Linked DNA regions of Homo sapiens. The protein of the gene in region 1 interacts with the protein of each later gene in a pairwise test. Each region holds a gene or a part of one and is shown in the gene's direction. Other genes may lie near its edges.

The links.
Region 2: the proteins of PRPF40A (region 1) and SREK1IP1 interact in binary tests that used the Homo sapiens proteins (3 or more experiments, as listed by UniProt).
Region 3: the proteins of PRPF40A (region 1) and DPF1 interact in binary tests that used the Homo sapiens proteins (3 or more experiments, as listed by UniProt).
Region 4: the proteins of PRPF40A (region 1) and SH3BP5L interact in binary tests that used the Homo sapiens proteins (3 or more experiments, as listed by UniProt).
Region 5: the proteins of PRPF40A (region 1) and PTPN4 interact in binary tests that used the Homo sapiens proteins (3 or more experiments, as listed by UniProt).
Region 6: the proteins of PRPF40A (region 1) and CCNC interact in binary tests that used the Homo sapiens proteins (3 or more experiments, as listed by UniProt).
Region 7: the proteins of PRPF40A (region 1) and FGD5 interact in binary tests that used the Homo sapiens proteins (3 or more experiments, as listed by UniProt).

The regions. Positions count from the first base shown.
Region 1 is NC_000002.12:152,710,962-152,714,461, reverse strand, and holds part of PRPF40A (pre-mRNA-processing factor 40 homolog A), read left to right. Parts: intron 1-2,094; exon of another isoform or gene 2,095-2,158; intron 2,159-3,500.
Region 2 is NC_000005.10:64,758,692-64,762,191, reverse strand, and holds part of SREK1IP1 (protein SREK1IP1), read left to right. Parts: intron 1-2,711; exon of another isoform or gene 2,712-3,500. UniProt on the Homo sapiens protein: Possible splicing regulator involved in the control of cellular survival.
Region 3 is NC_000019.10:38,214,223-38,217,722, reverse strand, and holds part of DPF1 (zinc finger protein neuro-d4), read left to right. Parts: intron 1-131; coding exon 132-263; intron 264-1,319; coding exon 1,320-1,370; intron 1,371-1,463; coding exon 1,464-1,583; intron 1,584-3,500. UniProt on the Homo sapiens protein: May have an important role in developing neurons by participating in regulation of cell survival, possibly as a neurospecific transcription factor. Belongs to the neuron-specific chromatin remodeling complex (nBAF complex).
Region 4 is NC_000001.11:248,815,916-248,819,415, reverse strand, and holds part of SH3BP5L (SH3 domain-binding protein 5-like), read left to right. Parts: intron 1-2,531; coding exon 2,532-2,594; intron 2,595-2,753; coding exon 2,754-2,882; intron 2,883-3,500. UniProt on the Homo sapiens protein: Functions as a guanine nucleotide exchange factor (GEF) for RAB11A.
Region 5 is NC_000002.12:119,762,922-119,766,421, forward strand, and holds part of PTPN4 (tyrosine-protein phosphatase non-receptor type 4), read left to right. Parts: intron 1-3,500. UniProt on the Homo sapiens protein: Phosphatase that plays a role in immunity, learning, synaptic plasticity or cell homeostasis. Regulates neuronal cell homeostasis by protecting neurons against apoptosis.
Region 6 is NC_000006.12:99,562,161-99,565,660, reverse strand, and holds part of CCNC (cyclin-C), read left to right. Parts: intron 1-2,712; coding exon 2,713-2,819; intron 2,820-3,500. UniProt on the Homo sapiens protein: Component of the Mediator complex, a coactivator involved in regulated gene transcription of nearly all RNA polymerase II-dependent genes.
Region 7 is NC_000003.12:14,817,882-14,821,871, forward strand, and holds the start of FGD5 (FYVE, RhoGEF and PH domain-containing protein 5), read left to right. Parts: upstream 1-1,190; coding exon 1,191-3,715; intron 3,716-3,990. UniProt on the Homo sapiens protein: Activates CDC42, a member of the Ras-like family of Rho- and Rac proteins, by exchanging bound GDP for free GTP. Mediates VEGF-induced CDC42 activation.

The DNA.
Region 1 (3,500 bases):
TAGTTAAAAAAAAAAATGCAGATTTTATTTTTTAAAAGTACTTTCATGTATCTCATTGACATAAGCTGGTCACAGTTTGCTTTATGGCCCTTTCTCTTTAGCTGTATCAGTGACCATCTTTCTAGTAAGTTTACTTGCTACTCGGTACACATCCATTCAAATAACTGATTTTTTTGGTGTGGTTTTCTTCTACTTTTTCCTAGGCTAATATATGCCACGTGCCTTTAAGTAGACCTAATTATTTAGATGTTTAGAATTCTTCTCCCTCTGAAGGCTCCTGTTAGTATAATAAATAAATGTTTTAGTAGGAGTTATGCCCTGAAAGTCCCAAAAGAATCTCCGCTGTTTTTGTCAGAATTATATAATTCCCTTTTATCCCCTTAATATTTCACTAACAAATATGGGTCCCAAATCTTGGTAAAACAAATTCTTGTTTTAGCTTTATAACAGACTGGGAGAGCATGGATAATTTGAATTCTCAAATCAGAAATCATATTTGAAACTCTGTAAACATTGCTTTAAAAATTAAAGGTGATAATAAATAGGACAATTGATCCTTTTTCCTGCATTATTTCTTCTGCCACTCTTGGAAGTACTCAGGAGGAATAAGTGGTCAGAAGATAATTGAGAAGAAGCAGGATGTCTGTCTGTATCATTCACAGTAGTGACAGTTGGGAGGGTTCTGCCATGCAATTTAAAAAAGTCAGTTCACAAATTCTTTAGACTTTGGGACTGAAGGTTATAAAAACCTTCATGTGTTGACTGGTTTGCATGAACATCTCATGCTGGGACTAGCTAAAGACTAAAATTGGTGGCAGTCTTACTTGCCAAATAATTGTGGTCTTTGGAATGTTACCAATATGACATGAAACTGTAAAACTTGTTTGTAAAATAATATGCAGACTGGGTAGCATAATGATGTACGGAAGCCAGGGTTCATAATTTCTCAAATGCATCAAGCTATTTAGCTTAAAGAAGTGGTGTGTTCAAATTTTTTTTTTCTTAATTCATGAGATGACCTAGAGTGCCATCTCATGCATTTAGGCTGACTCTTAGTAGTAATAAATATTTGATGATTATCAAATTGAGCTTAATATTCTTTCAGGTTTATTTCAGTTTTCTATCTTGTAGATTAAATTTGCCTCTTATTCTATATAACTTTATAGGAAAGTCATACTTTTAGAGTTATAGGATCTTATAGCTGAAAGGGACCTTACAGGTTGTTTAAGCTTTAAATAATATGTGATTTAAGATGCTTTGAGGATCACTGGTTAAATGTTAGTAAAGAAAGATAAAGAATTTTCCCTGCTGGATGGCAGTACTCAAAAATTTCCCATTGGGAGGCTGAGGCGGGTGCATCGCTTGAGCTCAGGAGTTGGAGACCAGCCTGGGCAACATGGTGAAACCCCATCTCTACAAAAACTATTTAAAAATAAGCTGGGTGTGGTGGTGTGCGTCTGTCGTCCCAGCTACTTAGGGGGCTGAGGCAGAAGGATTGCTTGAACCTGGGAGGTCGAGGCTGCAGTGAGTCAAGATCACGCCTTGCACTCCATCCTGGGTGACAAAGTGAGACCCTATCTCAAAAAAATAAAGATTTTCTGTAGAGATTTCTATCAATAAAATTATGTGTGAGGCTGTCTTCTTCCTCAGTGTCCATAGTAAATACTGTTTTCATGTCTTTTGTGTTTTCTACACAAAGGACATGCAGGTCCTGCCATCTTTATCACAGATGATTATGCCTTTGCCCCAGAGTCATGCTAGCTGGCTCTTTTTTTTTCCTCCCTATTTGAGTCTTTATTTTCCTCTATCAGTGAGAAGAGTAGAGTAATTGAGTTAAGGTCCCTTTCAGCTCTAACATCCTATGATTCAGTTCAGATCATTTGATAAGAGTAGATATCAGATTTTATGGGATGATATGGAAAGAACAGAAAATTCCTTTAGTAATGCCTCCCTAATTCTATTTATTCAGTGCTTTTTTTTTTTGGTCTTTGGTCAGTAAACTGATAAATGAATAATTGCTTTTTACAAATGAGTTTGATTTTCTTGCTCCTATATTGAGTAAGGCTGGCTCTAATAGATCTTATTTTATTTCAGTTCCTGCTACCACATGAGCCCAAGTCGTCACTCTCCCATGCCTAGGTTATTCAACAGTTTTTGAGTTGAGTTGGTTTTCTTGCTTCAAGGATGCCCCCCTGCCCCCACAAATTTTAGATTTCAATGTGTTATCTCCTTGCCCAAGAATCTCCAGTACTTTCAGTGCCTATAACATAGTATCTAAATTCCACAGCTTAACTTTAAAGAACCTCCCCATAGTACATGTCAAAGCAGGATTCAAGGCTGCATGTCTTTACACTCCCTAATTTGAACTTAGGCTGGTCTTTTCACGGTGTCTTGAGTGATTATATTAGTTCACAACTTCAAACTTAGGCTGTTCTTCTTACCCTCCTGCCCCCAGCTCAGTATCACCATGAAGTTTGCTTTGCTTACCTATGTTGTACTATTTCAAGTCCTGCCTTCTCCAAAAGTTTCTCAAAAATGACTTTTGCCAACATATACCTCCCCTTCAGATTATTAAAGAAAATATTTGTAATCTACCCATAACTCTTACCGTTTCACTTATTTTGGCACCTAGTTATTGACTTGTTTTATGGTTTCTTAATTTGCTTTAATTTTCCAACAAGTAATAGATTGTAAGCTCTTAGAGGGCAGGGGCTATGTTCTGTACTTTTTAAGAAGCCTATAGGTGCTGAGCACAGTTCTTGGCACATCATGGGTGCTCAGTAAAATACTTGTTGAATGAATGAAACAAATACACAGGTATTCTTTCCTGCAGTATAAGCCCATAAGTCAGTCAGTGTTAAATGTGACTGTTTCCAGTGGTTACTTGTGACTTTACGTTGTTACTACTTATTCTTGTTTTTAGTGTCTGCCTCTTTACTCTTACTTTTTCATTTGACAAAAATGGAAGATAAATAAGATGAAATAAATAATTTTTGTTTGGAGAATAAAACTAAAATATTTCCATTTGCAGTCGACCCTCTGTATCCAGAGATTCAAGCAACTGCGATGGAAAATAGTCTTTAAAAAAGCAACAACAAAAAAATACAAATTTTTAAAAATAAAGTATAATAACTTTTATAGCATTTACATTGTGTAAGGTATTATAAGTAATGTAGAGGTAATGTAGAGGAAAAAATAACAAAGTAGGATATAGGCCTTGCAGAGAAATTTAGTGTATTGGTACCTTAGACTTACCTGACTGATTTGACAAATTTATTTGTTGCTGTTCCTTCTGAATTACCCTTCCTTTTGAGTAGCTACAGGATCCATGCCATTGAATTGGGCATTAGCCAGTGACAAAAAAGAGATAGAATTTTTGTTTTTTAGGTCATCTGCTCATAATTCTTGAATCTGGGTAACTTCTGGGTACATGTGGATGACTCAAGCAAGTACTTTTAAAAAATATCTTAACTCAGACCTAATGTCTGTAAATTCTTGAC
Region 2 (3,500 bases), on another chromosome or scaffold:
TGAAAATGTCAGGCTTCCCTAAATTCCAAAATAGACAATAGGAAAAATATATTAAGTTCTAAGCATCACTGTTAAAATTCCCAGTGACTAAGTTGTTGCCTTTGGAAAGATAGGTGATGTAAAATTTCAAGGAAATAAATTTAAATCGAATATGACATTCCTTTGCGGACCACTGACCAACCTGAAGCAAGTGTTGAGGACTCGCCATCTTTCTCTCAATTTTTCTCAGTCCTTTTATTTTTGTCCCTTCTTTTTGGTTTTCTCAATATTTTCTGTTTCTTCGTTGTCTACTGTTAACTTTAAAATTTTTTTTCTTTTGTGCTAACTGCTAAGACATAATTTACATGTTTTAAAAACAGCACAGATCACAAATGTTTGGCTTGAAGAATTTTGACAAATAAATTGAGTGTGTGTGTATACGCACACGCGTATTTCTTAGCTGGCAACTGGGGTCTAGAGAAGTTGCCAGTTTCCAACTTCTGAAGTATAGTCATGCACCACAAAATGATGTTTTGGTCAATAACTGACTGCATATACAATGGTGGTCCCATAAGATTATAATACTCTTATTTTTACTGTACCTTTTCAATGTTTAGGTATGTTTAGATACACAAGTACTCACCATTGTGTTACAACTGCTTGTAGTATCAATACAGTGACATACGGTACAAGTTTGTAGCTTAGGAGCAGTAGGCTATACCATATAGCCTAGGTGTATAGCAGGCTATATCACCCAGATTTATGTACACCATGATGTTGCCACAAGGACAAAATTTCTGTGTTGTGCCTAACAACACATTTCTCAGAATGTATCCCTGTCATTAAATGAAACATGACTGTATTTTCTTAAGCTTATAACCTCAAATCAATAAGTATTTGTTGAGCACCTCTTAGCAACTCTCCATCATGGTAAGCACTGAGTTGGATTCAAAATTATATGGCTACTTTAAGTTACTGGAAGAAAAAGGACCAGCCCAATTACCTGATTCCTCCCACTATCACCCAAGTTGTTTAACAGAATACTAGATTCAGAGTAAGCCCTTAATATTTAGCAAGTATAAGAATGAAGACTCTGACATCATGAATTAATAAAATTTTATTGAAAGTCTGCAATGTAACCTCTCTGAAGAATTTACAAATGCAATAATTGCCTTTTGTCAGATAATGTTTACTTGACAGTTACTTTTCTTAGTGTTACAGTTTTGTTTGTTTGAGGGAGATTTTCCAGATTGGTTTTTGAAAGGGTAATTTAATCACCTTTCACATTTTAAAACTGCCAAAAGGTATATAGTGACATGTCTCTTACTCAAGTCCTTCTCTGTCTGGACTTAGTTTTCTTTCTTCAAGTAACCAATCTATATCCTTACAGAGGTATGTCTAATATCTTCTGTAAGAATTAAAGAAAGAGGTAAGAAACATGAAAAGATGGCTCGCCAGTCAGGACAGATTTATTTAGAGAAAACAAACGTGAGAGGTGCCTTCTGGCCAAGTTAGGTCAGAGGCACACTCACTTACAAACTAAGAGTTTTTAAAGATTCAGGGTGGGAGAGTTTATCAGAGGCTTGGACTGCTTCTCTGACTCTTTGTTGTGCTTATCTGGGAGGGAGAGTTGTGTGTCTGTTCCCATACATCTTTCTGCAGCTGCAGGCCTATCAGTCTGCATGTAGCTTTTCTATCCTAGTGCACCTGAAGGGAAAGGAATGTGCTTATTAAGGCCCACTATTTTACTGGGGCCCATTGTATGAGGGTGAAGTTTGGCAGTTGCTCAAGAGACTTTCCCCCCACCTCCCTTTGTGCCCAGCTGTCTTATCTGTATGTTATTGTCTGTTCTTTCTGGCTGCTTACAATTAGAAGAGAAGTAATTTCCTTGAAATGCATGAGGCTAGAAAGGGAGCTGGAATTTAAAGTGGTGGTGTTTGTCCCAGATGACAGTGCTCCTGCTCTATCATCTTCTTTTTTTTATACGAATGGCAGCATGCCATAAACACTGTTCTGCACCTTGCTTTTTTTCTTTTTACAGTATATCTTAGCGATCATGACATCATTAAATAAAAACCATCCCCATTATTTCATACCGTAATTGATTTAGCCAGTTCCGTATTGATATTTAAATTATTTCTACTCTGTCCCTATTAAAAACAATGCTATAGTGAATAACATTGTACATAAGTCAGTATGCATTTGTGCACATAAATTGGGAGAACTAATTCCCAAATGTGAGATTGTTGTGTCAGAGAGGTATGTACACTTGTAATTCTGACAGGTTTTGTCAGCCTGCTTTCCATAAGAGATAGTACTAATTTATGCTCCTGCCAGCAATGTATGAGAGTATGCCCCCCTACACTTCCTTCAACCTTTCAATCTTTGCGATTCTGATAAGTGAAAATGGAATCCCAGTATAGTTTTTAGTGTACATTTTACCTGTTTTAAGTAAGACTGAGCATATCTCCACATGTTTGAGAGTCATTTCTATTTCCGTTTCTGTGAACATCCTTTGCCCATTTTTTTCCTGTTGGTTACTGATCTTTTTCTTAATGATTTGCTGAGATATATACATAGGGATAATTGCTCTTTTTTGGTCCTATGAGGCGCAAATATTTTTTCCTCAAGTTTCCACGTGTCTTTTGAGTTTGCTTTTGGTGGTTTTTGCCATTCAGTTTTTTTCCAATGTCAAATTTATAAGTTTTTATATAATGCCTTTTGGATTGCAGGTCATGATTAGAAAGGAAAATTTTGAGGTGGGCACACTGTATTACTCTGAACAGCCTTAGCAAACTTCAAAAAGGAATGGAGCCAAGAACTGCACGGGAGCCCAAGGCAGGGAAGTAGGTAACTTAGCTGAGTAAGGACCTCACAATATAGCTCTACTATAGTCACTTTGACATGGATTTTGAGTACCGTTATATCAGCCAGGGTTCTTATTCCAAACGATAGAAACTGACTAGTTAACTTAAGCAGAAAAGGAAAGATATCAGCTAGCTCAGTGAATCTAAGCAAAGCCTGCATAATAAGGGTCAGAAAATAGAAATGACCCAGGGAACCCATATCCAAGATCCTGCACAAGCCCAAACCTGGTTAGGGCTGCTACTGCCAGTGACATCAGTGCCCCTGGAAACTGGATCCTGACAGCAGAATGAATTAACTTTCCCCACTTTATTGTGTCACTTGCCTCAGATCTATTAAGTCAGTTGCCTCAGATTCAAACTCTTGGGTAGAAGCATTCAGTTGCCCAGACAATCACGAAAATTAAAGACTAATGAAGCTGAAATAATAATTTAACCAAAGACTGGTGAGGAACTAGCTGATGTAAAGTACTTTATTTAGAGTTCTGGTTATATTTCCCTGTCATGTAAAAGTTTCAACTTTAGTAAAGATGATGATCTGCCAAGAAAAAGTTTCATAGTTTGTTTACTCTAAAACTGTGGGATACTTGAGTGATGAATTTATCAGTGCCTTTTGTCATGAGTTCAATTCTAATACATGCAGAGATAAGATTATTT
Region 3 (3,500 bases), on another chromosome or scaffold:
CCGTTCCAGACCCGGGTTGGGAGGCTGCTCAGGTCTCTGGCTGAGGGGGGAGGTGTGATCCTGGAGGCCAGGGTGGAGGCGGCAGGGGCCCGGAGGGGCTGACAGGCCCTCCTGGCTCGCTCGCTCCCCAGTCTGTGGGAAACGGTATAAGAACCGGCCGGGGCTCAGCTACCACTACACCCACACCCACCTGGCCGAGGAGGAGGGGGAGGAGAACGCCGAACGCCACGCCCTGCCCTTCCACCGGAAAAACAACCATAAACGTGAGCTGGCAGGCCAGGTGGGGGTGGCCAGGGGCCCTGGGAGTGGGGAAGAGGAGCCCAGCTGGGGGTGGGGGTGGGGGGGCATTAGACATTTCTGGAAAATCTCCAGCTCAGCCGTTCCCTCCCCCCACCGACCATGGGGATGCTGGCTCCGGGGTTGCCATGGCAACCAACCATCGCTCCTTCGCTCCTGGCCGGGCGTAATATTTCTGGGTCTGATTTATTGTTTCAATTAGAGCTTGGGGAGGGGGGGTGATAGATGGCTCCCCTCCCGCCCTGCCTTCCCTTTCTCCTTTCTCTGCTAAGCTTTGGTCAAGGGGCAGGGTCTGTGGCCTGGGAGCCCTTGGCTTCCGCCCTTGCCAATCCCATGCCAGTTCTGACAGCTGAAGGATGGGGGAGGGGAGGAGGGTTTGGGAGAGGCAGTAGGGAGACACTGTCTTCCCACCTATCTCTCAGAGGCAGAGGCTGAGTGTCTTCACCCCTGGCCACTACACACCCACGCACCTCAGTGTTCGGAGTTTTTCTTCCGAGTGTCTGTTTCCATACCAGATCTTGGCTGGGGTACTCGCTGAATTTGTTAGATACAAATTACTGAGGGTGCAGTTGGGAGTGGCTGGCTGGGAGACATGTATGTGAGAAGGGAGGCAGGGAGCCCTTCCTCAAGCTGTCTACCAAGTTTTGACCCAATAAAGAGGACATGTCAGTTGTCTCAAGGAGTTGGGAATCCTGGCTGGGTGCAGTGGCTCACGCTTATAATCCCGCCACTTTGTGGCAGTGGCCGAGGTGGGAGGATCACTGGAGGCCAGGAGTTGGAGACCAGCCTGGGCAACATACCAAGACCCTGCCTTTATTTTTAATTGAAAAAAAAATTTAAAAAGGCAGAGTTGGGAGTCCCGATGAGAACTGTTTTCACCTCTCCCCACAGCTTGGGGTAGCTACTCACTCTTCCCAGCTCCCCACGCCTGGACTAAGAGGTCCATCCTTGGGGCTGAGGCTGGGGGCAGGGTGGAGCCTTGCCTGTGGTGAGAGTCCCTCTCTCTGTCCCCCCTACCCCAGAGTTTTACAAAGAATTGGCCTGGGTCCCTGAGGCACAAAGGAAACACACAGGTACGGATGCCTCCTTCTGCTCCTAAAGTCTGCAGCCACCTTTGCGGGGTGCCCTTGCCTGCCCCGTGCCAATGCCTGTCTGCTGTCTTGCAGCCAAGAAGGCGCCCGACGGCACTGTCATCCCCAACGGCTACTGTGACTTCTGCCTGGGGGGCTCCAAGAAGACGGGGTGTCCCGAGGACCTCATCTCCTGTGCGGACTGTGGGCGATCAGGTGATGCTCCCCACCTGAGGTTTCTGGGGGCCGGGTGCAGAGGACATTCAGGAGTGCAGACCTGGAGGGAGGGAGGCAAGGCGGTGAGGACCGAGGGGACCCGGAGCATGTAGGGGATACTGTGGATAACCAGAGCTAGCGAGGCTGATGCAACTGCTGAGGATTGTGGGAATTGGGTCGGATCAGTGAGGCTTTAGGGATAATGGGATGTGGCTCTCATGGCACTGTGGGTAGCTGCCTGTGCTTAGCATGGCATCAAGAGTAGTGAGAGGCCAGGTGTGGTGGCTCACGCCTGTAATCCCAGCACTTTGGGAGGCAGAGGTGGGAGGATCACTTGAGGCCAGGAATTTGAGACCAGCCTGAGCAACATAGCAAGACCCCCATCTCTACAAAAAATTTAAAAATTATCCAGGTGTGTTGTTGTGCACCTGTAATCCCAGCAACTCAGGAGGCTGAGGCCGGAGGCTCCCTTGAGCCCAGGAGTTTGAGACCAGCCTGGGCAACATAGTGAGATCCCATCTATATATAAAAAAAGTTAGCTGGGCATGGTGTTGCACCCCATTAGCCCCAGCTACTCGGGAGGCTGAAGTGGGAGGCTCGCTTGAGCCCAGAAGGTTTTTGTTTTGTTTTGTTTTGTTTTGTTTTTTGAGACAGAGTCTCCCTCTGTCACCCAGGCTGGAGTGCATTGGCATGATCTTGGCTCACTGCAACCTCCGCCTCCTGGGTTCAAGTGATTCTTGTGCTTCAGCCTCCCGAGTAGCTAGGATTACAGGCACCCGCCACCATGCCTGGCTAATTTTTAATATTTTTAGTAGAGACGGGGGTTTCACCATGTTGGCCAGGCTGGTCTCAAACTCCTGACCTCAGGTGATCTGCCTGCCTTGACCTCCCAAAGTGCTGGGATTACAGGCGTGAGCCACCGCAGCACCCAGCCCCTTGAATCTGGGAGTTTTTGACTAGCCAGGGCAACATAATGAGAGCCCATCTATTAAAAAAAAAATAGGCCAGGCTGGGTGATGTGGCTCACATCTGTAATCCCAGCACTTTGGGAGGCTGGGGCGAGCAGATCATGAGGTCAAGAGATCAAGACCATCCTGGCCAACATGGTGAAACCCCATCTCTATAAAAATACAAAATTTAGCTGGGTGTGGTGGTGCGTGCCTGTAGTTCCAGCTACTCCGGAGGCTGAGGCAGGAGAATCGCTTGAACCCGGGGCTCAGAGGTTGCCATGAGCCAAGATTGCACCACTGCACTCCACCCTGGGTATCAGAGCAAGACTCCGTCTCAAAAAAAAAAAAAAAAAAAAAAGGCTGGGCATAGTTTCGCACCCCATTAGTCCCAGCTACTCGGGAGGCTGAGGTGGGAGGATCGCTGGAGCCTGGGAGGTCAAGGCTGCAGAGTGCACTGTGATGGTGCCACTATGCTGCAGCCTGGGCAACAGAGTGAGACCTTGTTTCAAAAACCAAAACAAGACAAAAGGAGTAGCAAGAGACAGGGGCCAAGGCATGGCAGGTAGTGGGCTGTGTGGTGTGAGTGACGGACACCACCACCTGGGCACCGGTAGCAGGATGAGCTCGCCATAGAGTTGTGGTTAACAGAATGTGGTTTCCCATGGTGGGCTTGTGGGCAATATAGACTCTGGTTGCCTCAGCACAGTAGGTCATGAATTGTGGTTGTCGTGGCATCATGGGTAGTGAAATATGGTTGTCATGGCAACTCAGTATAATGGAATGTAGTTGTGATGGCACCGGGGCCGTGGTTGCAGGGGGCGGGCGCCATGGGTCGTGGCTGCAGGTAGCGGCTGCGGGTGTCTCTGCAGCGGGGCTGTGGAATGACTAAGCCTGGCGCTGCACAGTGCTGTGATGTGAGTAACAGTTTTGTTGCTGGGGCACCAAGTGGAATGGACTTCAGTTGCAT
Region 4 (3,500 bases), on another chromosome or scaffold:
TTTTTTTTTTTTTTTTTAAGCTCATCAGCTGTAGTTAGTGTTAGTGTATTTTATGTGTGGCCCAGGACAGTTCTTCTTCCAGTGTGTCCCAGGGAAGCAAAAAGATTGGACATCCCTAGTTTAGAGCCAGATTTGTGGCCCTCCTTAGGCAGGGTCTACACTGTTGTAGGTAGGTGTGTGCATTTTCATATCCTCATTCCTCGTTCCATTACAGGTTTCTACCTTTGTGTTCTTCCTGTTACTGTAATTAACATGTCAAACCATTTCCTGTATTCTTACCTGCTGACCCAGATCTTTTCAGGATCAAGGCAGGGGATGGGGGGAGGATAGAAGAGGTAGAAGGGACTAAAAGGAAGATTGTGCATGTCAGCCTGACTCCCTCACTGGGTTGCTGAAAGGCCCGAATGAGGTGAGTGGGGGCCAACATCACGGCCATATGAGTGGGAAGTGATTGTGGTGTCACTGCCAAGTGCAAGTCATGGGTCTGGGCAGCAGGCACATGCTGGGCTGGGTCTCTCTGGCCTGTCCAGCCTCCTGTCCAGAGACAGCAGGGGCTGGTGAAGGCAAATCCTATAGCTAGGCACCAGGTATTTCCTGGCACAAGGCCCTTGGCACAGACCAGCACTGCTCCTCAGTAGTGTCCTTAGCTCACCAGGGGCTCTGGGAACTTTTGTGTTTTCTCGGGCAAGGGAGGATGACTTGAGGCCAGTACCCCTCTCAGCTCTCTTCCATTTCATGGAAAGCCCTGGATGGTTCTATTGCTTCTCTCTCCAGTCCTTCCAGGGGCCAGGAAGGCACTCAAACCAGCTTGTCCAGCAACTTTTCCCCAGGACTCTCCCTCCCTCCCACAGGATCTGCTCTATAGGGACCTGCGGTCATGGTCACCCATTGCCCAAGCAGGCCAAAAGGCTTCTTGGACTCTATACACTTTCCTGATCTTGACCTTAGTCATCCACCAAGCCCCTGTGATTCTGTGTCCTGCGTTGCCTTGGGATCTGCCCTCTCCTCTGCCACCTGGAATACTATAGACAGCCTCCACCTTTTTTTTTTTGTTTGTTTTTTGTTTTTGTGATGGAGTCTCACTGTGTCGCCTAGGCTGGAGTGCAGTGGCACGATCTGGGCTTACTGCAATCCCTGCCCCCCGGGTTCAAGCCATTTTCGTGCCTCGGCCTCCCAAGTAGCTGGGATTATAGATGTGTGCCACCACGCCCAGCTAATTTTTGTGTTTTTGCTAGAGACAGGGCTTCACCATGTTGGCCAGGCCGGTCTTGAACTCCTGGCCTCAAGTGATCTGCCCACCTCTGCCTCCCAAAGTGCTGGGATTACAGGTGTGAGCCACCATGCCTGTCCCAGCCTCCACTTTTGTCTCCCTGGCTCCCCCAGGCTTTCGTTACATTGGCACCAGGCTCTGAGAGACCCTTTTGCCATTGCAGAAAGTCCTGGTACTACCTCCCATAGTGCTGTAGCCTTACTGACCTTCTCACCTGCCAACTTGTCTGCCCAGGGTACCTGCTCCCCTTTGGTTCCTTGGCCCTTTGTTCTTCACTGGCACTTTATTTTTTTGAGACAGAGTCTCGCTATGTTGCCCAGGCTGGAGTGCAGTAGTGTGATCTTGGCTCACTGCAGCCTCTGCCTCCCAGGTTCAAGTGATTCTCCTGCCTCAGCCTCCCAAGTAGCTGGGACTATAGGTGCACGCTGCCACACCCGGCTAATTTTTGTATTTCTAGTAGAGACAGGGTTTCACCATGTTGCCCAGGCTGGTCTCAAACTCCTGACCTCAGGTGATCTGCCTGCCTCGGCCTCCCAAAGTGCTGGGATTACAGGCGTGAGCCACCTTGCCTAGTCATTCACTGGCACTTTTGTGTCTATGAAGTCCTTCCAGCTGCTGAGCAAGTGTTCCAGGCATCCTACCCTGACCTTCTGCTGCCCAATTAGGTGACCTTGCTACCCAGAGAGCACCCACACCCACCCCTCACAAGGCTGCACATACTGCCCAGGACCTGCTGCTGACTTGCTGGGTTTCCTTACAGGCTGCCACCTCTATGTCCTGAATTCTCAGGTCTCACGGTCCTGAGAGGTGATAAGTGTGCAGTAAACATGTGCTGACTGAGTGGCCCTGCCCTGGCCCAGGTGGCCATCCTCTCGCAGAGAGCGAGCCTTCAGGTCCAAGGAGACTCCCTCAGTTTGAGGAAGTGTTGCAATCTCACGGAGAGAGTGAGGGCTCACCACAACTTCACGTTGTGCATATTAGTGTTGCATTCTCCAAACCTCAATTTCTTCATCCTTGAAACTGGGGTTTTACTACCCAATACAAGGTAGAGTTGTGAGGATTACGTGAGATTGTATGTATCAGGTCCCTGATAGACAAGAAAGCTTTTGGCAATCTCCGTATCTTCTTTCCTTTCCTGAGTGTCTCACCTCATTTCCCTGGGCAAGTGGGGCTCTCTCTCTCTGTGTTGCTCCTGCCTTGCATGGTTCATTCAAGGCTACTTCCTTCCACTGCACTAATTTGCCACCCCTCTCTGTGGCAGGAGGAGTTGGAGCACCTGAACCAGGCCAGCGAGGAGATCAACCAGGTGGAACTACAGCTGGATGTGAGTGTCCTTTTCCTTATGTGCTTGGGCTGGTCCTTGGAAGTATCTCCATCTGTCTCTTTCCCAGATTGAGGCAGTGGCGGTGGGAGGGGTGTGTCTGAGAAACAAGAGGGGCTGGGACCCAAACATGTGCCTTTCCTCTGCCTTGTTCCTTTCCAGGAGGCCAGGACCACCTATCGGAGGATCCTACAGGAGTCGGCGAGGAAACTGAATACACAGGGTTCCCACTTGGGGAGCTGCATCGAGAAAGCCCGGCCCTACTATGAGGCTCGGCGGCTGGCTAAGGAGGTATGGCTGGCTGACCACGTTTGAGGAAGGCTACGTGCTGAGCCTGGCCCTGGATTCTTCTGTCTCTATATGGAGTGAGAGACAAAACACCAGACCCTGAGGGCAGAGCCCTGGGCTAGACCTGGCTGGTCGGAACCAGCTCTGTGGGCTCAGGAGGTTCCTTTACCACGTGGGCTCTGGGCTTATGGTCTATAAAATGGTGAGGGTGGCTGTGGGAGAATATTTAGTTCAGCCCTGCTAATGTTTAAGTGCCTTCTGTGTATCAGGAATCAGGCTTTAGGGTATATCAGATATGTCAGTTCTAACATCCTGTTGTTTTCATCTGCGCCCATTTCCTCTTCCCTTTGGTTCATGTCTCTCTTCTGAATCTTTTCTTTGCTTACTCCTCACTCTTTTCCCCATCCCACACCCCTTTTTTCTGTAACAAATTACTTTTAACAAATAATATGTGTTCACCATTGGAAAAACATAATAAAACAAGAAGGAAACAAAAATCACCCAAAATCCTACCATGCACGTTTCATGCATTTTGTTTCCTGGGATTTGTTGTCATCCTGTATGGTGAGGTGACAGATACAGACAACTGCCTTGGAAGAAGAGTTTGTTCCCGAGAGGAGG
Region 5 (3,500 bases), about 33 Mb from region 1:
CCTTGAAGTTTGGCTTAGCATTCTGAAAATCCTTTTTATTGTTTGCCAGGAAAGCACTGTAGGAAGGAGGTGTTATCTCTTCATTTAATATTTAATGAGTAGTATAGATGATGAGATAGGATATAATGTAGAAATACCGTAGAATCTTCTTTATTGATATGAAAGTACCATTGTCTAGGAACAGCATAATTTCTTATCTTTTGCATGAATGGGGAAAAAGAGGAGGGGAAATTTATTAGACTCTTTCATTTCATTAGAGATATCTTCCCTCACATTCATTCTTCATTTCATTATTCTTAAGTAGAAACTTTGGAAGAGAGATGCAAGTATTTGAATTAATTAGTAAGAACAAAATGAAAATTACATCGTATAGACTATCATGAGGAAAATATCAATTTGGGTTGGTTATTGTGTTTGTATTTTTTAACAAGGAGGTTATATAGAGTAGTAGAAAGAAAAAAGGACCCAGAGGGGAAGAGTGTTAATATTTATTGTCTGTTAAGTGTCAGATCCTGTATAAGGGGCTTTTCATGTTGTCCCACTCACCAAGTATGCTTTATGAGGTAGGTATTATTAATCCCCTGTCCTCTCCCTGCCAAATAGAAGCTAAGGGAAATGAAATAACTTGTCTAGGCTCATACTTCTAGTAAGTGGAATTCTCTAAAACTTATTCTTTAGATCGGTTCTGTCCAATTAAACTTTCTGCAATGATGGAAATATTCTTTTTTCCTTCAACTTTATTGAAGTATAATTGACAAATATCATAGAAATATTTTTTGCACTGTTAGTTATGGTAGCCATTAATCATGTGTGGCTATGGAGCACTTAAAATGTGACGAGTGTGTCTGAGAAACTCAATTTAAAATTGTATTTAATTTAAATCAATTTAAATTTATAGCCAGATGTGGCTAGTAGCTATAGTATTGGAGAGCATAGCTTTAGGTCTGACTGCTTAGAAAATCTGAGTTGTAGTATTTAATCTTCCACTGGTTTATGCATGGCATTGGGCAAGTTGTTTAGTTCTGGGCTTCAGTCTAATCTGGTGTGAAAATGAAGGGGTCGCCACTAAGAGATTATCTCCAAGGTTCCTTCTTGCCTGAAGTTCTGTGACTGTTATTAAAACATACAGTAGCATTCAATATTCACAAGCATTATGTCTGAAAGGATCCCCTCCCCAATATGCTCACCCATTACCTAAAGATTTCTGTTTAGTCAGTTTCTCTTTTTGAGAAGCGTATGTATAAAGCACACATAAAGGATAGTGGATTATTCCCCACCTCCCCAACTGTTCGGCAAAAACATTGTGTAACTCAAGGCAGTACTTTATGATGGAACAAAGTTTGAATCTTTAAAGGCCATATTTTAACATGCCACCTTCCCGTTTAAAAATATATAGGAGTTCCCCGGTGCTTATCAAATTAATCCCAAATTTACCTGCTTGACCTTGAAGACTTTCTACCAACTTCATCTCATTAACCTTGTTTCTCATTCGTGCTTAAAAAGAAAATAGTCTTGTTTTTTCCTTTGTCCTCGTTTCCATAATTTAAACATCTCTGTCTCCAATTCATGTGCCTCCTCTTTAAACCTTTTTCAAAATTCACCTGTTTCTGGAAGAATGCTGCTTAATCCACTCACAAGGATCAGTTAATGAATCCTGGTAATAAGTACCCTAAGGTTAATATATGCTTGTTTAGATATAGTTTAATATCTTCTTAAGCTTTTTTTTTTTCTTAAGTTTTTATGTTACCTACTCTGTTTCCTTAATTTTCTTAGGTTAAAAAAATTAAAATAGGAATAGCGTCTTTTGTATTGTCTTATGAATTTAGTTCATTTTTCAACAATGCTACTTTTAAAAGTTGCTAATTTTTAAAAAGGATAAATACTGTAACAACGTTTACCCTTGATCACCACCATAATAGCTATTTTTTGTTTCTTTCCAGGTAATTGTTCATATTTAAAAAATAAAGTTGTGTGGTAGAGAGAATTTTGAGAGGAATATAATGGGAACATTGTATGGTGGAGGCTGTGCAATGTAGGGGAAAGATCACAGACTTTGGAGTCAAATCTGGTGTGGAATCTAGCGTCAAAAACCTCGGGCAAACTGTCTGATTTCTGAGTCAGGAGTCAAATCTGGTGTGGAATCTAGCGTCAAAAGCCTTGGGCAAAGTGTCTCATTTCTGAGTCAGGTGGTCTTGAATTGTGGGGATTAAGATACTATATGTAAGGCATCTAGCGCTGTGCTTTAAATACAAGAGATGATCAGTCAGTGATAGTTGGTATTATTTTTTCATTTTTCTATTCCCATCTTCATGAATATTATTTATTTATTTTAGCTACCCAAAGCCACCAAGGTCAATGAATATAATTTAAGTGATTAGTTAAACATTCAGGTGATATACCATAACTGATTTAGACATTTACATTTTGTTAAGCGGTTTTTTGTTTATTTCCTCAGTTTAAAACCCTAGGACTGGGATAATGGTCAAGTGTCATGAATATTTCTGTGCCAGATCTCTCTCTTACAGAAGTACCTACAGTGGTTGTTCTTGTTTTGGGAAGAAAAAAATGCTAATTTTATAATTGTATTTCATTGTTTTAATTAATGTAATTTGAAAATTTATTTGGTGATGATGTAATGAACATTCCTTTATATGTTAAGCAAACATTTGAAATGCCCATTGTAGTGGGAGCAGTGGTATAAAGGTAAATAAGACATGATTCTTGTCCTTGAGCTCAAATTCTAGGGTGGTAACACATGTCAACAAACAATTAACAATTCATAGTGACAGTGTAATAAGATCTGGGGAAAAGAAGTGGCATTTGAATATGGTCTTGGAGGATCATTTGGAATTGATCTGGGTAGAGAGAACAGCATATAGAAAAAGTCAAAGTATGAAAGAATGTGTGGTGTGTTTGGAGAAATGTAAGTTGTCTTGTTGGATATGTCTGTCTCTGTCTGGGTGGGTGTGGTTGTCTGTTCCTGTGTGTGAATCTGTGTGTGTGTGTGTGTGTGCGCGCGCGCATGTGCGTTGATTGCAGTGGGAAATGAAGTCTTGTGAGGGTCCTTGTGTTTGGGCAATGAGTGGGATCATTTTAAGACCTTTAAAATAGAGCTTCCCAACTGGTGTGCCATGAATGGTTTACCAGTGTTTCGGAGAGCAAGATACCCTTGTTTAATGGGACCTGGGCATATCAGATCCCCCTCCCCACCCTGCCCCAGGATGGTTTCTTTTGGCTTTGAATAGCATTTGTGGCTTATCCCAACGTGCTAAGAAATTATTATTTTCTTTGTTGCCAAGTTGGGAAAAGGATTGGGAAAACCACTGTTTTAGAGACTGTAAGTATTAGAAAGTTTATGGTTCCTACTCACCCTTGGCATCCACTATGGAATCAGAAATAAATATCAAATCCTAAAGTAAGCTTAAGGTAAACTTAAGAATTCTTAAGTCACCTTCCTCTTTCTCTCTCTTTTTCCCTCCCTTTACCCGCTGCCTCCCCCA
Region 6 (3,500 bases), on another chromosome or scaffold:
AACATAAAGCATCAGCAGTGGTGAAACATTGAGATAATTAGGGTGCCTATTTAAGATTTTACCAATATGCTAGTCAATACAGTTGATACAAAGGAGATATAGAAAGAATGACAAAACAGGGACAAAATTATCAATACGTGGAAATAAAATTAATGAGAAAACTCAGTTAATTGAGAAGTTATTAGAAATAATAAAGGTTTAGGAAGGTGACCAGTTATAAAATGCAAAAATAAAAGCTTTTTAAAAATGGATAGAGAAGTATAATTTACATTAGCAACAGAAAATATACAGAGGGAAAAATATAAAGAAATATACAGAACCTGTAGGAAGAAAACTTTAAAAGTCCATAGTGGCACATACAGATTTTAATAGAGTTTGAATTCTTGGTAAGATGTCATTTCTCCCCATATTGATCTTTAAATGTAATGTAATCACAAAATTTGAATGGATATTCTTTTTTAGGACTCGACATAATGCTTCTAAAGTTTAGGTCTTAGAATAATTGTGATAGAATAGTCAGAAATTTTCAGAAGAATAGAAGGGAGTATTTTTCATATCACCTATTAATTACTTAATTTTCTATGTTTTAAAGTAGCACAGCATATGAAGAAGAAAAAAATAGGAAATTATAAAGAAGATCCAAGTATAATGATAGAATTATAAATCAGGAAATACCTTAGCACATTTGGATAAGCATTTGACAACATATTTAGCTGGATCCCTGCTTTATACTCTGTACCAAAATAAATTCCAGATGGATCATAAATTGAAGGAAAAAAGCTCTTAAGGGTATTAGAAAATATGGGTGAATTGTTTTTTATCGTTTTGAATCAGGAAAGGCCTTGCTATGCCTGACAAACATGAAAGTAAAAGGTAGATTTAAGTAAGTGATTCAGATTTCTGTATTACAAATAAATACTGAGAGATATTTAAACTTGGGAGAAATTTTGCACTTATTTGACAAACAAATGATTTATTATTTATACTATACAAATTTTAGATCAGAAGAATCTCTTAATCATTAAAAAAATCGGTAATCCCATTAGAAAAATGGTCATATTAGAATTAACATTGTACAAAAGAAGAACTGTATTTGACCAATAAAGACATGGAAAGATGTTTAACCTCAAAAGTAAACTACAGGGAAAAGAAACAGTGACATACTACTTTGCCTTTAAGTTACAAAGTATTTAAAAGTGGCAGTAACCCATAGGAATTTTTTTTTTTTTTTTTTTTTTGACAGAGTCTCACTCTGTACCCCAGGCTGGAGTGCAGTGGTATGATCTCAACTCAGTGCAACTTCCACCTCCCGGGTTCAAGCAGTTCTCCTGTCTCCGCCTCCCAGGTAGCTGGGACTACAGGCGCACGCCACCACGTCCAGCTAATTTTTGTAATTTTAGTAGAGATGGAGTTTCACCATATTGGTCAGGCTGGTCTCAAACTCCTGACCTCAGGTGATCCACCCACCTCGGCCTCCCAGAGTGCTAAAATTACAGGCATGAGCCACCGCGCCCGGCCAGGATTAAATATTATAAGATTCACTCATGAACTGTTAATACAAATGGAAATTGGTATAATGTTTTTGGAGGGTAAACTGACAATGTGTATCAATAAGTTACCAGCAACACTAACCCATTAATCCTACTTCTGGGAAGTTATTTCAAATATATTATTAATCAAATATGCAAGGAGAATTACAAAGATATTCATTAAGAAGAATATCATTCAGGAAAATAGTAGGAAGAGAGTTTTTTTTTATACCAGCTATTAATTACTTAATTTTCTGTGTCTAAAATAGCACAGCATGTGAACAAGAAAAAAATAGGAAATTATAAAGAAGATCCAAGTATAATGATAGAATTATAAATTAGGAAATACCTCCATGCATTTGGATAAGCATTTGACAAAATTTTAGCTGGATCCCTACTTTGTACCAAAATAAATTCCAGATGGATCATAAATTGAAGGAAAAAAGCCCTTAAGGGTATCAGAAAATATGGGTGAAAAATGACGACCTGTATTTCCATCAGTAGAGATTGGCTAAATAATGATCCATCCATAAAGCTGTATAAAAGAATGCTGAATAACAAGTTCATTGACATAAGACTTCAAATACATATTGAATGACAAACACAGGTTCAAGATAGTTTTTTCTTTGAGTCATGTCAATTTCATATCTGGTTAAAAATAGCACACTTGACTAGGCAAGAGGAGGAGGCTATCAGTGTAACACATTCTGAGGCAGTTTTTAATATAATTAGATTTGTGAAGTAAGGAAATTAAATGCCATAGTTACCCATGAACAGCTGGAAAACTATATACTTCCTCAAATCTAAGCCACCATCAATTGGTGCCAAATAATTCCACCATTATCTTATATCACTAAGAAAGAATAAACATGCTGCCAATTAAAACACGAAGGCATCACAGATTGTAAGACATATCTTGATATCAGAGCCAGAATCAATGAAATACAAGCTAGTAACAGACTAAGGAGGAAGAAGGAAAAGATTAGAGCAGAATTTTTTCAGGACGTATTTACATTTATTAGTGAGATAATTCTTATTAGTCACGTTTCAAGAAATGTGAGAAATAATTGTCTTTAAGGTTACTTTTTGCACTTTGTACTTCTCAGAATATGAACAATGTGTTCAATCTTAGAGTGTTTCCTCTGACCTTGCTTGTTGATTTTCTGTAACATGTCTTTTCTAGTTTGCAATGGATTTTGGATAAACAAGATCTGTTGAAGGAGCGCCAAAAGGATTTAAAGTTTCTCTCAGAGGAAGAATATTGGAAGTTACAAATATTTTTTACAAATGGTAAACTTTTTTAAAAATTGGTTCAAATTGTATAGTTGGTTACCTCTGAATAAAAATGTTTTTGTGTGGTAATTTGTGAACTGTTTTAGTGCATACCTAACATTTTTGCTTATACAGGTATTCTTTTTACAACATATTCATTTATCTTTCTTTTTAGTGATCCAAATAAAGTTTTTTTGTGTGAATTTTACATATCACAGGCACTCAAGACAATTTGAAAGTGTTACCTAATCTCCCTAAGACTTTATAATAATTATTAGACCCAGTTCAAGGTTGGCTAAAGCAAAGTACTTTGAGGATAAATGATTCTTTGGATTGACATCCTATAGTGGTCGTTTCTCTTAGAACTTTGCTTTGAAGGGAAGAAGATGTAGGGATAGATCTTTACTCTGACATGTAGTAGGTTTGTCACATAATTTTTTTAACTTTCGGTTCACTATTTTGTAAACTTATCTTTTTTTTGAGGATTCGTTATGGATTTTTATGTATTATTTATTTATTTTGGTGAGCTGTATAAAGCTAAGTGTGGTGGCTCACACCTGTAATCTTAGCACTTTGGGAGGCAGAGGTGGGCAGATCACTTGAGGCCAGGAATTTGAGATGAGCCTGGCCAACATGGTGAAATTCCCTCTCTACTAAAAATACAAAAATTAGCTGGGCGTGGTGAGGCACAAGAATCAC
Region 7 (3,990 bases), on another chromosome or scaffold:
ATGCAAGGGAGCTTAGGGGGCCAGGCAGGTGACAAGGAAGCCAGGGAGGAGGCATGGGCAGTCTTGTAGCAGAGAGATGCTGAGCTCAAAAGTTGGCAACCACTCATTTGACCGTTCCCCTTCTCTAGATCCTTCTTATCCTGCAAATCTTAGCTAAAATATCACCTTCTTTAAGAGGTCTTCCCTGGCCACAGCAGCCCATGCTTCTCTAATTCCAGTTGCATTGTAGTCTGCACCACATCTTTTATTCTGCCATGGTCAGAAGGTCCTCAGCATCCACAGATATCCATGTGGCAAGTACATCCTTTTCCAGAGATCCATGTTGGCACGTACTATATAATTTCTCCCATGAAATTTGCATGCCCATGAAATTTGGGTGTAGGCCTGGCTGGACACAGTCCTGAAGCATGCAGATTCCAGACGTGACCCCCAGCAGAAGCACACATCACTCTTTCAAACCTTTGGCGTGTCATTCATGAAGGGATGAAATGGCAGCTATTCAGTCATAATATTCCAAGGGTCCCCGGCTCTACCCTCCAGTTGTTGTAACTCAACTGTGAGTTCTCAGCAGAGTCTGTTTTCTCTTCTTGACCCTAGGAGACCCTGCCATCTGCAGTGCTGTGCGTGTAGCTAGTGGGTACCCAATGGAGTAGCTGTAGAAGGGGGGATGTAAGCTCCATGAGGGCAGCAGGGAGGGTGACAGCAAGTTCAGCCTTTTCCCATGGTTGCTGGGTCATAGAAAGTGTTTATCAGTAGCTGCTGGATGAATGAATGCACTGACCTGGACACTTCATTTGAGGAGCACAGGATTTCATTTGGTTGATTTTCGTTAGTTGGGCTGCGTGTAGAAGAAAGGTCTGTTCACTTTGTTTACAGAATGAATCTTTAGTGGAAAATCAAGGGGTTTTAAAGATTCTGGTGGAGGGCATAAGCCTAAGACAAAGCACGGGAGGTGGGCTTCACATGGATGGACGGAACCATCTGTGGCGTCCCCTGCAACTGGTGTGTAGGAGACTCTGAATGGCAATAAAGTTAATTGTACTTTTTCTCCTTTTCTCTATTTTTGTCATCTAGATTCACCAAAACCACCTGTCGCTCCCAAGCCAAAGACTACCAGTCCACTGACGCCAGTGACCGCGCCCAAATTCCCTTCCTCAGCCAGGCCCGAGAGTCTTCACAGTCCAAACTCCATGTTCAGGGGTCCGAAGCCCCCCATTGCCCCCAAGCCCAGGCTGACTGCCCCAAACGAGTGGAGAGCCAGTGTGTACCTGAATGACAGCTTGAACAAATGCAGCAACGGGCGGCTGCCCTGTGTAGACAGGGGGCTTGATGAGGGGCCCCGGTCCATCCCAAAGTGCTCTGAGTCGGAGACCGACGAGGATTACATCGTGGTCCCCAGGGTTCCGCTGAGGGAGGATGAACCCAAGGACGAGGGCAGTGTGGGGAACAAAGCCCTGGTGTCTCCCGAGTCCTCTGCGGAAGAGGAAGAGGAGCGTGAAGAGGGAGGCGAGGCATGTGGCCTGGAGGGTACAGGAGCTGGTGAGGATTCAGTGGCCCCTGCTGCTCCGGGTGCAGGAGCGCTGAGCAGGGAGGGTGAGGAAGGCACAGACCTTGCTCTTGAGGATGAAGGGGAGGGCTGCGCTGATGAGCCAGGGACACTGGAGCAGGTGTCCAGAAGTGAGGAGGAAGAGAAGCTAGTGCAGCCACACAGGGAGTGCAGCCTGGAGGACAGTGGGCCTTGGGCTGGAGAGGGGGTCTTCCAGAGCGACCTCCTCCTGCCTCACATCCATGGAGAGGACCAGGAGCCCCCCGACACCCCCGGGGAGGCAGAGGAGGATGATGAGGAAGGCTGTGCCAGCACAGACCCAGCAGGGGCAGATGAGGGTTCGGGTCCTGACAGGCCCACGGAGGACATGGGACAGGATGCTGAGGACACCAGTGAGGAGCCCCCTGAGAAGGAGGAGCTGGCCGGGGTCCAGGAGGCAGAGACAGCCACAGACTGCCCTGAAGTTCTTGAGGAGGGATGTGAAGAGGCCACGGGTGTCACAGGTGGGGAACAGGTTGACCTCAGTGAACCACCTGACCACGAGAAGAAAACCAACCAAGAAGTGGCAGCCGCCACCCTGGAGGACCATGCACAGGATGAGTCCGCCGAGGAGAGCTGCCAGATTGTCCCTTTTGAGAATGACTGCATGGAGGACTTCGTGACTTCCCTCACAGGAAGCCCCTATGAGTTCTTCCCAACTGAGAGCACCTCTTTTTGCAGCGAGAGCTGTTCTCCTCTTTCTGAATCAGCGAAAGGTTTAGAATCAGAGCAGGCACCAAAGCTGGGGCTGCGTGCGGAGGAGAACCCCATGGTGGGGGCTTTGTGTGGCCAGTGTGGCTCCCTACAGGGTGGAGCGGCCGAGGGTCCCGCAGCCCCTGATGTGGTGGTCGTGCTGGAGGAGGAGGCCTTGGATGATGCACTGGCCAACCCCTATGTGATGGGAGTGGGCCTGCCCGGTCAGGCGGCCCCTGGAGAAGGAGGGCAGGCTGCATCGGACGCCCTGGGTGGTTATGGCTCGAAAGAAGAATTGAACTGTGAGGCAGAGGGTGGCCTGGTTCCCGCGGACAGGAAGAACACCAGCACGAGGGTCCGGCCCCACTCTGGGAAGGTGGCCGGCTATGTCCCAGAAACCGTCCCTGAAGAAACCGGACCTGAGGCGGGCTCGTCAGCCCCTGGCATTGGAGGTGCCGCAGAGGAGGTGGGAAAGACGCTTTTGTCATTGGAGGGGAAGCCCTTGGAAGCCAGCAGGGCCTTGCCAGCAAAGCCCAGGGCCTTTACTTTATACCCTCGGTCGTTCTCCGTGGAAGGCCGAGAGATTCCAGTGTCCGTGTACCAGGAGCCTGAGGGGTCAGGGTTGGATGACCACAGGATAAAGAGGAAAGAGGACAATCTCTCTCTGTCGTGTGTAATTGGCTCCTCTGGGAGTTTCTCCCAGAGAAACCACCTTCCGTCCAGCGGCACCTCCACGCCTTCTTCCATGGTCGACATCCCACCTCCTTTCGACCTGGCCTGCATCACCAAGAAGCCCATCACAAAGAGCTCTCCCTCACTCCTGATCGAGAGCGACTCCCCGGACAAGTACAAGAAGAAGAAGTCATCCTTTAAGCGCTTCCTGGCACTGACGTTTAAGAAGAAGACGGAGAACAAATTGCATGTGGATGTGAACGTGTCTTCCTCTAGGTCCTCTTCAGAGTCCAGCTACCACGGGCCTTCCAGGATTCTGGAAGTTGACCGGAGAAGCCTCAGCAACTCCCCTCAGCTTAAGTCTCGGACTGGGAAGCTCCGGGCTTCTGAATCCCCCTCCTCCCTCATCTTTTATAGAGATGGCAAGAGGAAAGGTGTCCCCTTCAGCAGGACGGTGTCCAGAGTGGAGTCCTTTGAAGACCGCTCCCGGCCGCCCTTCCTGCCCTTGCCACTGACCAAGCCACGGTCCATCTCCTTCCCCAGCGCTGACACTTCAGACTATGAGAACATTCCAGCCATGAACTCGGACTATGAGAATATCCAGATTCCACCCCGGAGACCTGCCAGGGCTGGCGCGTTCACGAAGCTGTTTGAAGATCAGAGCAGAGCCCTGTCCACAGCAAACGAAAATGATGGCTACGTGGACATGAGCAGCTTCAACGCCTTTGAGAGCAAACAGCAGAGTGCAGACCAGGACGCAGAAAGGTACCTGACATTCTATTTCCTTTCTTGTTCGGCAGCTGTAACTGTCCAGGAGGCAGCGTGGGTGTGGGGGACAGATGGACTTGCTTTCCAGCCTCAGGCTCTGTTTCTTACTAGCTGTGTTGACTTGGGGTGAGTGGCTTTATATCTCTGAGCCTCGGTTACTTCATCCGTGAAATGGGACTCATGCTACCTCATGGTAGAGAGTTTAAGAAAATCAGAGTAAGGCCGGGCGCAGTGGCTCATGCCTGTAATCCCAGCACTTTGGGAGGCCGAGG